2 separate regions of the Homo sapiens genome follow, and region 1 is linked to region 2. The links come from fine-mapping of genetic effects on gene expression. Tissue or cell type: thyroid. Region 2 holds a variant in brackets; the other region holds the start of a gene. All regions are shown on one strand. Distances are from middle to middle.

Region 1 (8,184 bases), 22 kb after region 2:
TATACAGTACTTCCTCAAAGCAAATCTAGCTTTGTCTGAAGTTTCTTTGGAAACTCTGCAATGCACTGAAGACATCTGTAATATGATGTTACCAAAGCAGTTTACATATGTCCTTATATGCATATTTTTTATTATATATTTAGTGTTTTATAGAATTTTTTAAAGTTAACATATAATGTAGATATTAATTTTTTCCTCGGCTGTAAAATGCTATGGGCAACACAATCATGCAATTATAATTTGAAAATATTTCCTTTAAAGACAGAGTTTGAAACTCATCTTGGTAAATAAATTGCAAATTACTCGTACAGTTTTACAAGGATCTCATGGCAGAACAGCGGAAGACTTGGTCCGTAACTCAAGGCTGTTGTATGCAAACTACTCTTCTAGTGGTTAATGCACTTGACATGTACAGTATGTTTCCCATGCCGTTGTGATTTTGACATGTACAGTATGTTTTCATGCCGTTGTGAATTTTGTTGTTCAACCCAACTTGAGATGGTTTCAGGAATGGCTGCAATCTCAAAAGCTCAATGTACTGCCCAAGAGGCACCTTGTGCAATATTCCCATCCCTGAATTTAGCATTGTACAGGAAGATTTTCTTTTCACTCAACTGAGTTAGCATTGTCTTTGTGGTAGCATTATCTTAGACATTAAATTTGAAGTAACATATATCCTGTAGTAACATAGACCCAAAGTTACTATAGTCAACCAAGTCTTTCAAAGGATAAAAGATCATTTTATTATCTTTAACTGTATCTATTTTGAATGTAAATTTAAAAAAAGTAATTCTCTGTCAATGGATTCGTAATTTCTTTACAAAATTTCTTATATATAATATGTGTATCTCTGTAATAATAGAGCCCTTCTTTTGAATCAAAATTACATATGGACTTTGGAAGATTGCTCCTATTTCAACAAATAGTTGCTGCAAGAATTTTTAATATGACTCTATAAAAGCTCTTTAGTACAATTGTATGGTTTCTTGATGATTCTGTTTTGCAATAGGTAGCCTAGTTGCTTTATATGCTTTACCTTCTAGGTCTTAAAATCACACATTGGAAAATGACAATATCAACAAAACTGTATTCTTATGAAAAGAACTATTTGTTACAATGAGAAAGGTTTTGTGAGTAAACCCTACTGGACAGTGACATAAAAGGCAATGGAATTTTCTATAAACATTTTCTCATGTAAACATGCTGCCACCTTTTCTTCTTTCTCAGAGAACTCAAATTTGCTATAGTTTGTCATTTTTGCTTACAAATAATATAACTTTTCAACCTTCTAGTTATATTTATCCAATAAAGTCATAATCGGGATTCCATTTGTGTAAAAACTAGGGTGGTAACCGGAAAAAAATATTGTCAGTATTTCAAGCTGTGTTCCTTTCTTAGTTTGATATGGTTACTTCTATGTTGAAATAAAATTTAAAATCACATGCAAAAAAAAAATCAGCAAAATAATAAAATGAACGAAAAAAAATGACACCCAGGGAGTTCCCAACCCCAGTGTAAATGATATTTACCAGTGATCTAGCATATGTAATCTTTTTTAAAGGTATTGTTAATAAATATTCTGTCATTTGTAAAGATACTTGTCTTTCGGGAGCATTTTTCCTGCCTGCCTGTCAGGGAATTTGTTAGCTTACCTTTGTGCTAGTTATAATTTGGGATCATAGAGGGACTCAAAAGTCTCTACCCAAATCTAGATGACCCAGAGCTTTTCCTTTGGAATTGACAACCCTGAAGCACCATTTCAAATCCTCTTTGGAAGTAGAGAGGGTCCTAATCCACAAGTAAATGTCCTGAAGATGAGACTTGAATATTTTCTCTTGATTAGCTAAGTCTTTTGTATATTTACTGTAAGTATATCTGTTGTTTCCCTCACCCCCCATTGCTAAAAGGGTAAGTTCTAAGCTTGAGCATTTAAGGCTCTTTTTTTTTTGAGACGGAGTCTCACTCTTGTCACCCAGGCTGGAGTGCAATGTTGCGATCTCGGCTCACTGCAACCTCCGCCTCCCAGGTTCAAGCAATTCTCCTGCCTCAGCCTCCCGAGGCGCCCACCACTACACCGGACTAATTTTTGGATTTTTAGTAGAGACGAGATTTCACCATGTTAGTCAGGCTGGTCTCAAACACCTGACCTCAGGTGATCTGCCCGCCTCGGCCTCCCACAGTGCTGGGATTACAGGCTTGAGCCACCGCACCCGGCCCTTAAGGCCCTTTTTAATCCAAAACGATTTAACTGTGTATCCAGCCACAGTAAGCCCTCCCTGACCCCTGAACACTGCTTGCTTTTGGTCTCACCTCTGTGCCTTTGGTCTTATGGCTGCCCCTTCCTGAAATGCCTTCTCCACCCTTCTCTCCCATTCAGATCCCTGCTGTCCTAGGGTAGCTCCAGCCCCAGTTTGTCTGCAAAGACTTCCCATGCTTCAGTCCTTTATGACATTCTCGCTTGGAAGTAGTTGCATCCCCTATCAATGCTGCTCATTTAGTAATTAATCAGATACTACTTTTGGAAATCTCTTGTACTGTTATCTTGCATTTTAATTTAACTCCTGTATTGTTACTTACTTTTTCTTGTATGTATGGCTTGTCTTCCCAACTAGATTGTAAGCTCCTTGAGGGCAGGGACTTTGGTCTTATCTTCCATGTACTCTCCATAGTGCCTAGCACAGTGCCTTGCAATAAATACTCACTGATTAATTGAATGAAGGGGTCTTTGAAGTAGCATTTTGCATCAGTTGCCTGCCTGTGTGCCACAGCAAACCAACCAGGGAAGACTGTGTCATTACTTTCGTTATGTGCTGAAAAGCGTTAAAAGGCCTGGCTTCTAACTTTGTACCTGGAAGAAGTCTTTGACCAATTGGCTTCATCATCGGGTAAATGAGGTCCTGGATTAGTTGAGTCTAACTGAATTGAAGATGTTTTAGAAAGTGCCCCATGAGCACCTCCACCCAAACTTGTCTCATTTGTTGGCTTTCATGGTTGCCTCAGGTAGGGTCCACTGGCTGTAAGCAAAGAAACGACCCTGGGTAACTTGAGCAAACAAAAAGTAAGGAATTAGAATGACACAGGTTACATCATATGAGCCAAGGAAACACTGAAGGACCAACTCTTGAGGAGAATAAGAACCAGGCCACTCTGTGGGTCCAGACAATGGGAACTTTGGAAAGTCTTTTTGGGGTGCTATTGTGGGGATGAATCAGCTTTGTTTCCAATTTTGACGCCATTATGCTCAATATTCAGATTCCTGGGAAAGTGATCAGTTCCATTTGAGTTCCACAGCCAGAGTACCTTGTACTCACAGGGGAGGGATAGTTAAAGGAAAACTAAGATGCTGTTTTCCAAAGGTAAGAGAAGAAATGCTGGGTTGGTATAAGTAACAGATTTTCTAGGCTTAGCCAGCCAAGGGGACTTTCTTAGGCCCTTAGCCCAAGTAATACACTCGAGTGGAATGACTATATTGCTGCTTGAGATTTTTTTCTGAAGGAGGACCACTAGGAAAATTTGCTTTGCTTGTTTAACCTTTCAAAGTGCTTACTCTTGCCCTCCTTTTTGTGTGTGTAGTCCACTTGTGATTTAACTGTATGAAAGGAAATTCTATTGTGCCAGATATTTGGATTCTCTCAGTGTACCTACTTTCTATGGAGCCCACACATGCTACATACAAAGCAGCACCTTTCCATGGGCACAGAAGACATGGATGATAAGCTTCATTTCTCAGGTAAGCTCTGAATTCTTCCAGCCTGTGAGGTAGAAGGTGCATAGACTTTGATATTAAGAAAGAATGATTGTGTTATTCCCACCATCAAAATTGTGGTTGTTTATATCCAGGAGGCAATGTTAAATCCTGATTAACCTTTACCCAGTCTCTTCCACCACCTTGCCTCACTACAAATATGCGCAAAGAATGTTGAGTTATAAAAAGTATACAAATAGCACATAATTAGCAACAAAAATGTCATGCAGTTTTTAATCTAATGTAATCAACCAACAGGTGATTTTTGTTCACTACATTGGATTATCGATGCTACTGTTCTCCTCCGTTAACACTTATAATCAAGAAGTGACTGTTATTTTCCTGTTGTTACAATTTACAAAATGTTCTGGCTAAAAACGTTATGTGGCCAACCATAGTGCTTTGAAAGGCAAGCCTTTAAAATCAAGGACTTATATTCAATCTGTGGACATACCCCAGATTTTTCCATTACAAAATGCCAGACACTGAGGCCTTACAAAGGCAGCCTAATACAAAGACTAAGGACGTGGATCCTGGAGTTTGACTGCCTGGGGTGCATTGTAATGATTGGCTACTTATTAGGGAGGATAAAGTTTGTAAAGCTCTCCAAACAGTGATGATTTTACCGTCTGTTATTGTTCTTTTTCTCCAGGGACTTTACTAGACCCACAGATGTAGGATGTGGATGCTTCTTATCACCAAAATGAGTGGAACTCAGCTGACACATCCATTATCACCTTTTATTTAAACATGATCACTTCTTAATATAAATTTTAATGTTCGATAATTTTAATCATACAATCAACTAATTCAAACTTAGGCAGTAGGGTTCCCATTCAGATGCCAGGTTTTGCACAAAGCCTCCCTCAGCTTCCCCATCTGAAATTGACCTTGCATTTCTCTGACCTCCAGGGGATGGGGTCTGTACCCACTCATGTCAGTCATCCCTTCGTACCTTATATTTAAATCATTTTTGTTGGTGTCTTCCGCCTTATAGTAGACACACGGCACCTCAGCGTTGGCATCTGGGTGTGGTTCCTCATTGTGCTCCCAGGCACAAGGCCTGTGTCACCTCCATCTCAGACCTAGAGGGAGGAGAATATCTGGCCCCGTTTCCTGTGATTTCCTCAGGCCCCCTGCCAGAGTGTGATTAGTAAATGCAAGTCAGGCTGCCCATTCTGCAAAGAGGCCCCGTTTCCCCTTGTGCTAAATGGGCCATGCGGATTAAATGTTCCAGCTCTGCAACTCACCTGCAAACTACAATACTCAACAGAGATCACAGTTTAAACAAAATTGGCCTCTATCCTTTATCACAAGCAGTTATGGGCCATGGTAGATTAGCAGAGCTCTAGTGATATAGATCACATAGAGAGAAAGCTTTTTTTAAAAAAGGTCAACCATATGATCGATCTGAAAGTCTGGAAATTGGAAGGCTGAGCTACTTAAATATAGATGCAATTACATGTGATATCCCCATTCTCTGTAAACTGGGTTTTTGCCACATATCCTTATTGTTAGGAATAACACGAACTATACCAGGAAATATATATGTCCTAGGACTTTAACAAATAGTAATATCTTTAATTTGTTTTTCTAGTTTTCAAAGTGCTTTTCACACTAATAAGGGGAGGACATAGGTTTTTATTCCTTTTTTATTTATGAAATGGAAGCAAAGAGGTTATATAAGAAGCCCAAAGTAACATAGACAATTAGAAAGTCAGGGCTGGGCATGGTGGCTCACACCTGTAATCCCAGCACTTTGGGAGACTGAGGTGGGGGGATCACAAGGTCAAGAGTTCGAGACCAGCCTGGCCAACATGGTGAAACCCCATTCCTACTAAAAATACAAAAATTAGCTGGGCATGGTGGCACGTGCTTGTAGTCCCAGTTACCCAGGAGGCTGAGGCAGGAGGATTGCTTGAACCTGGGAGGCAGAGGTTGTAGTGAGCTGAGATTGCCCTACTGCACTCTAGCCTGGGCAAGAGAGTGAGACTCTGTCTCAAACAAAAGAAAAAAAAAAAAAGAAGGACTAGAATTTAGAACATAGACTCATTAGTGCATTTCATACACCTAGAAATAAGTACTTAGAGAAAGGACAGGATGGAGTAAGGAACTAGACTCTGAAGTTCAACTAGAGAACATTCTAGGACAAGTAGGTAGGCCAGAGGAAATGGTGAGGTAGAAGGGTGAGATGTCTGAGGTTCAGATGCTGGAGGTGGAGAAGTTCTGAGTGCCGGCCAGGCCCAGGGCACAGCCATCTGGAGGAATGGGATAGGATAGGTGCCTGGAGAGGGTTTTAGTTATTCAGCAAGGGACTACTGGCAGCCCTCTCTGTACCAGGCACTATTCTGGGCATAGAAGAATGATGTGGCATTCAGATGTGTGTGAGGAAGCCAAGGCACCAGTAACAGTATTTTGTCACAATACAGAGAAATGCAATGATAATAATAATAGTAAACAGTGATTATGCTTATAATATGTGCCAGACTCAGTGCAAATCAACCTACCGATTTAGTTACCATTTATTATTCCTATTTTATACACAGAGGATTGAGGTTGACAGGTTCACATTTGTCCCTGATCACACAGTTGATCAGAGAGACCAGGAATTGAAATGCTGGTGGCTTGGGTTTAGGGCCCTACTCCAAAACATTAGATGTCTCTATCTGTAAATAGATGATACATAAACAATAAGGTAGGTAGATAGATAAATAGACAGATAGATACGGTTCCCATATAGCAACAAGAAGGAAAGGCAGTCATGAGCTTCAGTCTGCTCTAAAGTGGCTCAGCTTCTCTGCTTCTCTTTCCTTGACTGCAAATGTTGTTTTTTGCGTGTTCGTTGTCCTTGACTTCAGGTGTCTTAGAGCTGTTTCTTTAAACTCCGGCTACCCTTCAAGATCAGGATTACCCAATAAAATAGGAGAGGAGCTATTAAACTTAGATTTCAGATAAAAAAAAAATTATGCTTCCTTAGTATAAGTATGCCCCATGTGATATTTATTTGAAATTCAACTTTAACTGAGCCTCTTATTTTTATTTGCTAAATCTGGCAACCTGACACCAGGAGGTCTTCATTACTCTCATTGAAGTAATTAATTTGTAATTCAAAATTTCAGGGTCTTGCGAATGTGTTGTCAGATCTCTGAAGGTCAATGGCTCTGAGGGCGAGACATGAAGTTTGCTGTTTTGAGTTCTGTTTCGTTTGCTGAACTCTCCTTCCCACTTTTCCTTGGATGGTGTGAGGATGGGATGTGTGTGTGTCCAGAGAGACAGGGCTGGTGGGTGAAGTTCCTCTTAGAGCTGGCAGAAAAGAGGTTTTGTTTTTTTTTTGTTTGTTTTTTGAGACGGAATTTTGCTCTTGTTGCCCAGGATAGAGTGCAATGGCGCAATCTCGGCTCACTGCAACCTCCGCCTCCCGGGTTCAAGTGATTCTCCTGCCTCAGCGTCCTGAGTAGCTGGGATTACAAGCATGCGCCGCCACGCCTGGCTAATTTTGTATTTTTAGTAGAGACGGGTTTCTCCATGTTGGTCAGGCTGGTCTCGAACCCCTGATCTCAGGTGATCCACCCACCTTGGCTTCTCAAAGTGCTGAGATGACAGGCGTGAGGCACCGCACCCAGCCCAGAAAAGAGTTTTAAGACAAGGGAATCTTTCCCCAGCAAAGGCCCACATTATGTGGCAAGAAGGTGTTAAAGCAGGTGGAAGGGATTCCAGAAATATTCTGAAAGCTTAAAAAAATGGGTTTGTTGCCAGGAACATAGGCCACAGCACAGCTCGTTGGAAAACTATGTAGTGGACGCATCGTTTATCAACTGCAGTGTTGGGACCAAATATCCGAGACCAAATAACTGGCAGTTAGAATTGGCCCAGTTGTTCCTCTTGAATTTAGTGGTTAACAAATAAGATATTGAGTGCATACTATGTGTCAAGCACTTGCTGGGCACTGGAGAAACTGAGATAAATAGGGTTAAGGCTTCCCTCATGGTTCACTGAAGGAGACAGAAATACACTTATTGAAGGATGGTGTGAATAGTGTGACAGATAAAGGTATGAACACAATGCTGGACCTGTGTTTCTTGCAAAACCTACTTATAATGAGGTTAAGTTCAGTCAAACACAATTTTTTTTACCATTGATCCCCCAGGATAGAATATTTTCATTTGATTAAACATGATTATTTTCCCAAATTGGTTGCTTTTCTTAAAAAAAAGAAAAACACATTCATAAATATTTTGAATCCATTAAGCCATGTGTCAATATTGGCCCTCTGGGAAAATCTAGCTCATTGCCCGCTTTTTTTGTAAATCAAGATTTATTGCAACATAGCCATGCTGATTTATAGATTGCCTACGGCCACTCTGTGCTATCACGGAAGAACTGAGTGGCTGCCACAAAGACCATATGGTCCTCAAAGCTGAAAATATTTACTATCTAGC
Region 2 (8,184 bases):
TTGGGTGTTTGAATACACTGCTCCAATTCTGGGGGTCTTGCTCTTTCCCAGGTCCTCCAGGTCCCCCAGAGGCTGTGACAATAGACGAAATCACAGATACCACTGCTCAGCTCTCCTGGAGACCCGGGCCTGACAACCACAGCCCCATCACCATGTATGTCATTCAAGCCAGGACTCCATTCTCCGTGGGCTGGCAAGCAGTCAGTACAGGTACCATATTGGATGCTTGGCTCAGAGACATTGGGAACTCAGCATACTGGACACAGCACTGTGGCAAGGAACGTCTAAGTTCTCATTCAGACACTACTACAAATGATATATTATGGCAGTGTTTCCTAAACCTCGGCCAACTGTACTATCATTAATATTTTTCTTTATATCAAATCACAGTTGGGTTTTTTTAAACTCATCCTAAGCAATAGTATCTGTGAAATGGTAATGTCCAGGCCAGATTTGGTGGCTCACGCCTGCAATCCCAGCACTGTGGGAGGTAGAGTTGGATGGATCGCGTGAGCCCAGGAGTTCCAGACCAGCCTGGGCAACATGGCAAAACCCCCTCTCTACAAAATATACAAAAATTAGCCTGGCATGGTGGTGCGTGCCTGCAGTCCTAGCAACTCAGGAGGCTGAGGTGGGAGGATTGCTTGAGCCCAGGAGGTAGAGGTTGCAGTGAGCCAAGATCACACCACTGAACTCCAGCCTGGGTGACAGTGAGACTCCGTCTCAAAAAAAAAAAAAAAAAAAGTCTGTTGTGCTGGTTGTATATGTATTTTCCGTAACACACATTAAAAATATATTAGTTATAAAAATAAAATGCATCAATCTGTATTACCTAAAATCATCTGTGTAGCACTGTGGTTCACTTTGGAAAGCAGCGGATTCTGCCTGACTATAGTCACTTAATAGTCACAGACTTCATAAAGTTTACACAGTGCTCTCAAAAACCAATAACAGAGGATTATAGGGAGCCTCTTCACTTGCTGCTGTGTTTTTTGAGACAGGGTCTCACTCTGTCACCCAGGCTGGAGTGCAGTGGTACAATCACAGCACACTGCAGCCTCGACCTCCTGGGCTCAAGCAATCTTCCCACCTCAGCCTGTTGAGTAGCTGAGACCACAGGCGCAGGCCCCCACACCCAGCTAATTCTCTAAAATTTTTTGTAGAGACAGGTCTTGCTATGTTGCTTAGGCTGGTCTCAAACTCCTGCGCTCAAGCAATTCTCCATCAGCCTCCCAAATTGCTGGGATTTCAGGCGTGAGCCACTGTGTCCAGCCCCATTTTTTTAGATGGATAAATTTGGGGATAAAAAGACATGAGATTTCTTTTTAACCAATTTTACAAATTCTTAAAAAAAAAAAAAACATTGTTAGCAGCAACACTTCCATCCTGTTTCCCTTTATTACATGTATACAGCACTTCCTATTTTTTAAAAGTTTCACAGTTATTTCTCTTTGCATGTAAAAGAATTCTTATACCAACCCCACTCTGTCAGTACCTCCAAATTGACTCATTTTCTTATTTAGATTTCATTTAAGGATAAATTGGATGAACAAGTAGTTATTACAAACAAAGATACACACTCCTCTAGACAGCAAAAGTAGGCTATATGGCCTTGATGTTTTGAAGGAGAATATGCCCAGTGTTGAGCAATTCATATAAATCTTGTTGATTTTAACCCATTTGTTTTTTTCACTTTAGTTTACTAATCCTTAGAAATGGGTTTCTGTGTTTCCTTCTGTAATCACTGAGTCACAGGTGTGCTTTAAGAAGGAAATATGAGAAAAATATAGAAGTTAGGAGATGAATTCTAGACCTGACTGCTAATCAGCTGATCTCTATACATCTTCATTTTCCTCTTCTGTTAAATGGGCACAATAAGAATTGTTTAAGAATGAATATAGGCCAGGCGCAGTGGCTCACAACTGTCATCCCAGCACTTTGATAGGCCAAGGCGGGTGGATCGCTTGAGCCCAGGAGTTTGAGAGCAGTCTGGGAAATGAGGCGAAATCCCGTCTCTACTAAAAATACAAAAAAAAAATAGACAGGCATAGTGGCATGCACCTGTAGTCCCTGCTACTCAGGAGGCTGAGGCACAAGAATTGCATGAGTCTGGGAGGTGGAGGTTGCAGTGAGCCGAGATTGTGCCACTGCACTCTACCCTGGGCATCAGAGAGAGAGAGAGAGAGACCCTGTCTCAAAAAAAGAAAAAAAAAAAGAAAAGAAAAAAAGAATATAATACTTTTACCTTTCTCAGAGGATAGTTGAAATAGTGTGTCTGGCACTATACAATAAATGCGGAAACACATGTGAAGGGGTGATAGTAATGATTGAGTCAGGTAGTTTGGGGTCTTGTGGACTGTGTGTCTTTTATGATGTCATCTGCTGGTATCTGATTAGAGTGTGTTAGTTTAACATACAGAGATAGTTCTGAGATTACCTCACTGAAACAACTGTTGATGCAGCTAATATCAGAACACCTACACTGCCCTGAATACAATAATGATGAGGATGGATGGATGTTCCTATCTTCCTAACGTAATCTCTGCATTTGTTTTCTGAGAACCTATGAAACAGCCCCCACCTTTTGTTGTCTTTCAGTCCCAGAACTCATTGATGGGAAGACATTCACAGCGACCGTGGTGGGTTTGAACCCTTGGGTTGAATATGAATTCCGCACAGTTGCAGCCAACGTGATTGGGATTGGGGAGCCCAGCCGCCCCTCAGAGAAACGGAGAACAGAAGAAGCTCGTGAGTAGCACCCGAGATTCAGATCATCTGTTCTGCCAGCTGCTGTTCCTTAGGAAAAGCGTTTGAATTCTTGCTGCTCTTCAGCGCTCATGCGGCTCTGTGTTAGCTCACCCTTCCCTTTAAATGTTTATAATGATAGAAATCAGGCCAGGAGAAGCCCAGCTGAACACGCAACGGGTTTCAATCAAGAGTTGTTTTCTTCATTAGGTCCACTTGTACAGCAAGAGACACACGGTGCTTAGTCCTCTCAAAAGCCAGCCCTTTCTTCATTGGTTCATTTGTCACCAAGATTCTAACAGAATTTCAAAAAAAAATCCCACATTTCAAATAAAATTATCTCACATAAGTAACTAATGGCAAAGAATAATTTGTGACTGCTCTGGACACAGCCACCATGGGGTAATCCTGTTTAGAATAGAAATAAAAAATAATTTCTTCAGAAATGTTCACTTAGATTATCTTTCTTAGGGTATAAACCATTCCCAGAAACGAAGATTCAGAACATCGTGCTCATTCGAACAAGACCAGTCAGCAATTCAGTATGGCCCTCTGCATATGCAGCTTGAATGAGCACGGGGAGAGAAGAACAAGTTCATCAGGGTCAGCCGTACTTTTACTTAGCTGGTGTAAAGCAAGAGGCCTACATGTGCCGTCTTTTATAGAGTTCCCGCCTGTAGAGAGGCCAGTGTGTTGAAGGAATAATAAGGTCCCTACACAAATAGGAGTTCTGACCCTACTCTCAGAAAAGCAAAAACTCATCTAGATCTATTTGATTGGCTTTAACCAAGGAGACATACCCAGTCACCAGCCACATACCCCAGTGAGACCTTTTTAAATGTGGCCCGGAGCCTTTCAGTTACGTGATGACAATATAGCTAGTCCCCTGCTTTCTTTTCCCCTTCCAAAACCATAATTGAATTAATTCCCCTCAGCAATCCTGAGGTGGAAGCTCGCATAATTTCCTCTCTTTTATAGAGAAAACTGGTGATCAAAGAGGTTAAGCTCAGTGAGCCGGGGGTCAACTTCTGTCTGCCACTTCCTTCAACACTCAGATCAAAACTCTTCCTCCCAGAAGCCATTCGCCCACCCCAGCTCTGAGCAGGGCGCTACTCCGGAACGCCCCCCGCTTCTCCATGCTGACTGTTCCTTACCCTGGTTGTCGACCTTGCTCTAACTGGTGCAGGCGCTCCTCCACTCCAACCAGCTTGTAAGCTCTGCCTGGGCAGAGCTTGTACTCTTCCCTTTGTGTATCTCCACGTGGCTCATAAACGCATAACCAAACATTAGGACCAGACTTCAGTCCTTTCCTCCCTTCGGGAACCCCTCGGCCTCTAGGGATGGAGCTGAACAATTGGTCAGACGTGTCAGATAACACGTGTGCCTTGTTGAATGGGAAACAGGTAATTAATAGCAGTCTCCTTGGTACATTTCACTTCCTCGAGCGGTCGCCGTGGGCCCCTTGACAATGCTGTTGCTGATCTCCAGAGACAAAGGGGCGTGCCTCAGAGTACTCACTGAAAGTGAGTCACCTCTGCCAGGCAACCTTCCTGGCCCTCATTCGCCTTTGCCGCCTGACATAACTTGTTTTTTGTCTCCTT[G/C]TGCAGTCCCCGAAGTCACACCAGCGAATGTCAGTGGTGGCGGAGGCAGCAAATCTGAACTGGTTATAACCTGGGAGGTAAATGAATCACAGAATAAAAGGAACGTACACGCATCGAAGCTATTTTATTATTTTCCTCCATGTTAGACATAGCTGGGAAGTTTCCTCCTCTGTTTTTAACAGTGAAAATTCATTTGGGTTCAGACACTCCCTCTCACGTAGCTAATGGCTAGCAGGAAGGACGGCACTTGCCCATCCATTGTTGAGGCAAGTTTTAATTCAATCCATCACAGTAAAAACAATTATGAAGGGAAGACAACACACGTTACAAAAAAAAATAAAGAAGGCTGTTTCAGAGAAAACTAGTTTTTCTTTTCTTCCTGAATTGCTGCATGGCCAATTGATTTAAAACGTCTGCCAGCAATAGATTCAGTGCACCAGCACAATTTCCTGGCAATTGGCTTTGCTTCTAGAAGGGGCCCTCTTTTAGGAGGTATTTTTTAAAACAACCTGGAGGAAAGTTAGTCACCAATTTATTAAAAATTGGCTTTGAGAGAAGAGGTGGGAGCTTTAGAAAGGGTTCTTCATGTTTTTGAAAGATTCTAAACAGCCCCAGAAATTAAAATCTCTCATTTACCCAAAGCACAGCAGTGAAAGAAATCACTCATCCCTCCAGCTGAACTCTTCCCTCTGAGAGGGAGGATCTTCAGCCAAGATGGTTTTTCTTCCTTCAGTGAGATCTTTTGTCTATTTGGCAATGGAAGAAGATTAGTATTAGAGGATACGTGTTGGAAATGTGGTTTTTCAGGAGACCGATGTCCAGTGTTTTTTTTTTTACAATCATTTCCAACCATTTCAGAGCTGGGTCTGCCCCATCAAAGAGCAAGCTCTGGACTGCAGATCCTCATTACGTTTTCAACCCTGTCCAGTACATCATAACTGTTTAAGATAGACTGACTGCAAGCCCTAAATTTAAAAGACTGTTAACAAAACGCCAAATAAGATGGGTGGAGAAGGATGTAGACAAGAATGTTACAAGGGAAACAAAAACGATTTTTGCATTTGAGTGAAACTACTGTGATTTCTGAAGACCACCTTCCTTCTTTCCCAGACGGTCCCTGAGGAATTACAGAATGGTCGAGGCTTTGGTTATGTGGTGGCCTTCCGGCCCTACGGTAAAATGATCTGGATGCTGACAGTGCTGGCCTCAGCTGATGCCTCTAGATACGTGTTCAGGAATGAGAGCGTGCACCCCTTCTCTCCCTTTGAGGTTAAAGTAGGTGTCTTCAACAACAAAGGAGAAGGCCCTTTCAGTCCCACCACGGTGGTGTATTCTGCAGAAGAAGGTATCGTTTATGCTGCCTAGATCATTGACTGTTAATATTTCTTCAATTCTAAAATGTGGATTGTAGCACGTACAATCAATTTCGCATGGTACATGTATCTTGAAGGCATACCTGATTTGAGAAGAGGATAATGTAAACAATTTGGTTCGCTGTCCACCATGAATCTCTTGAAAAGATAGCGACTGCTCTGTATATGAAAACACTTGGCTGTCCATTATTGATTCCATTGCTAAGGACCAGAATTGCAAATACCATATAAGATCTTCATATCTATCTATATGTTATCATTACTTTCAAAAGAATTTTATTTTTGCCTTTAAGTGAATATCAAAATATAATTTGCATTTTCTTACCACTTGTATTTTCATAAAGCATATGGTACTTGTGGCTCACACCTGTAATCCCAACACTTTTGGGAGGCCAAGGCGGGTGGATCACCTGAGGTTGGGAGTTCGGGACCAGCCTGACCAATATGGAGAAAACCCATCTCTACTAAAAATATAAAATTAGCCAGTTGTAGTGGCACATCCCTGTAATCCCAGCTACTCAGGAGGCTGAGACAGGAGAATCACTTGAACCCAGGAGGCGGAGGTTGCGGTGAGCCGAGATCGCACCACTGCACTCCAGCCTGGGCAACAAGAGCAAAACTCCATCTCAAAAAAAAAAAAAAATCTCACTTATTAAAGAAAAGAGTAAGTCATGAAGCAGTGTGATTGCGCTCACTGTCATCCACACCATCATTATGTTTAACATTTCTCACACATTATTATCACCTCCATGCTATCCCTGCTCTCGGGATGCCTCTCACACAGTCTTCGTTACCTTTGGAGTTCGTCTATGTTGTTTTAAAGATGATGCTCAGAATGGGACCATGTTAAAACATCTGAAAGGTGAATCATTGATTTAGAGTCAGTGAAGATGCAATAACTTATTCCCAATCAGAGAGATCATCCCCTTAGACTCAGTAGCCCTCCATGATCTAGCTGCTGCCTCTCTGTCTGCCTCAGCTGCTGATGCCTTTCCCTGCATATTTCATGTTCCAACCATTGCCAAAGGATTTACAATTATTCAAACAAGCTTCAGCCCTTTTCATAGCCTTCAACTTCTCTTAGATAATAGTTCATGTCTCTGGATTATGAAAATGAGAGGAAAAGGGGAAAAGGACAGTCAGCTGACTTGACTAAGATTCAAGAGAGCTGGATGACACTTCAGGTTCACACTGCAATCTGTATGATCTTGGATAACTCAGGTATACTCTGTGGGCCTCAGCATCTTTGGCTGCAAAGGAGAGGCTAGACTGACTGTTTCCCAAATTTCAGTTATTTTTGCCAGATTTCTGCCATAGCTGTGTACCATTTGTATATGTTCACATTTTTCTTTCAATAGTCTTCCTTAAAAAAAATTTAGTGGGCAAGCACAGTGGCTCATGCCTGTAATCCCAGCACTTTGGGAGGGGGATGTGGGAGGATAGCATGAGCCTAGGAGTTTGAGACCAACCTGGGCAACATAGCAAGATCCAAGTCTTTACAAAAAAACATTAGCCAGGCGTGTTGGCACATGTGTGTGTGGTCCCAGCTACTTGGGAGGCTGAGGCGGGAGGATGGCTTGAGCTCAGGAGGTCAGGCTGCAGTGAGCCATGATTGTGCCACTACATTCCAGCCTAGGTGACAGAGTGAGACCCTATTTCAAAAAAGAAAAAGAGAAGCAGTTTAGCCATGTCGTAAGCAATAACATTTGTGAGATGCTAATTAAGAAGGATCTGTGTTAAGGGAATTGCTGGCTATGAAAACTTGGTGCTTAAACTTAAGTGGTTCTTCTCTTCTACCCACACCTAAATTCAGAACCCAAACACTGGACAAATATTCACTACCACCAACTCCAGCTATTAATCACTGCCCCTCTGCAAAATGAGGGTTTGGCTTACAATCATTAAGGACGATTCTATAACCATGAATTATTTTACCTTATAATGCTAGTATCTACAATCCTGTCCTAATATAGCTGATAGAGTAATAACTATCTCCATATTCATCTACAGAACCCACCAAACCACCAGCCAGTATCTTTGCCAGAAGTCTTTCTGCCACAGATATTGAAGTTTTCTGGGCCTCCCCACTGGAGAAGAATAGAGGACGAATACAAGGTTATGAGGTAGGCAAGACATATGTGCCTTGGGTCTGAAAGAGAGTCTATGCCCCTTGATAAGTCCTCCAAGTCACATTCTTATAGGAAGAGACCCACATTCCCACTAAGAGGCATTGGTTTTAGGCCTGGCTTCCAGCTGAACATTAATGGAAGCATTGAATACTCAGCTGTGAGACTACCCTTTTTCTATGTTATATTCTAGAGGTATTTTTCGAATTATATGCAAATCTAAGCATTTACGGGATGGTTGGCAAAATGAGCTTTGACTTCTGATATGCCCAGGATCACTTTGACTCAAAACAAACATGGGAAAAAAGAAAATAATGAACGACGGTTGTGTCAATGTAC

Evidence for each region. PIP is the estimated chance that this variant, and not a neighbour inherited with it, causes the effect.
Region 1: it holds the start of CNTN4-AS1, and the variant in region 2 is fine-mapped to the expression of CNTN4-AS1 in thyroid (GTEx, PIP above 0.99).

Annotation. Positions count from the first base shown.
Region 1 is chr3:3,056,367-3,064,550 of GRCh38, forward strand. It overlaps CNTN4-AS1 (CNTN4 antisense RNA 1), which reads right to left and starts at 4,779. Exons shown (of 4, transcript NR_046554.1): 1 at 4,701-4,779. CNTN4 (contactin 4) reads left to right here. Exons shown (of 25, transcript NM_175607.3): 25 at 1-1,593.
Region 2 is chr3:3,034,581-3,042,764 of GRCh38, forward strand. CNTN4 (contactin 4) reads left to right here. Exons shown (of 25, transcript NM_175607.3): 17 at 52-210; 18 at 2,599-2,748; 19 at 4,353-4,423; 20 at 5,457-5,691; 21 at 7,730-7,842. CNTN4-AS1 (CNTN4 antisense RNA 1) reads right to left here. Exons shown (of 4, transcript NR_046554.1): 3 at 6,465-6,574; 4 at 5,081-5,802. Among named protein-coding and RNA genes, the nearest start is that of CNTN4-AS1, 22 kb to the right of the region's middle. RefSeq lists enhancers at 3,533-4,732, 3,967-4,076. The variant G/C (reference allele first, on the strand shown) is at 4,347.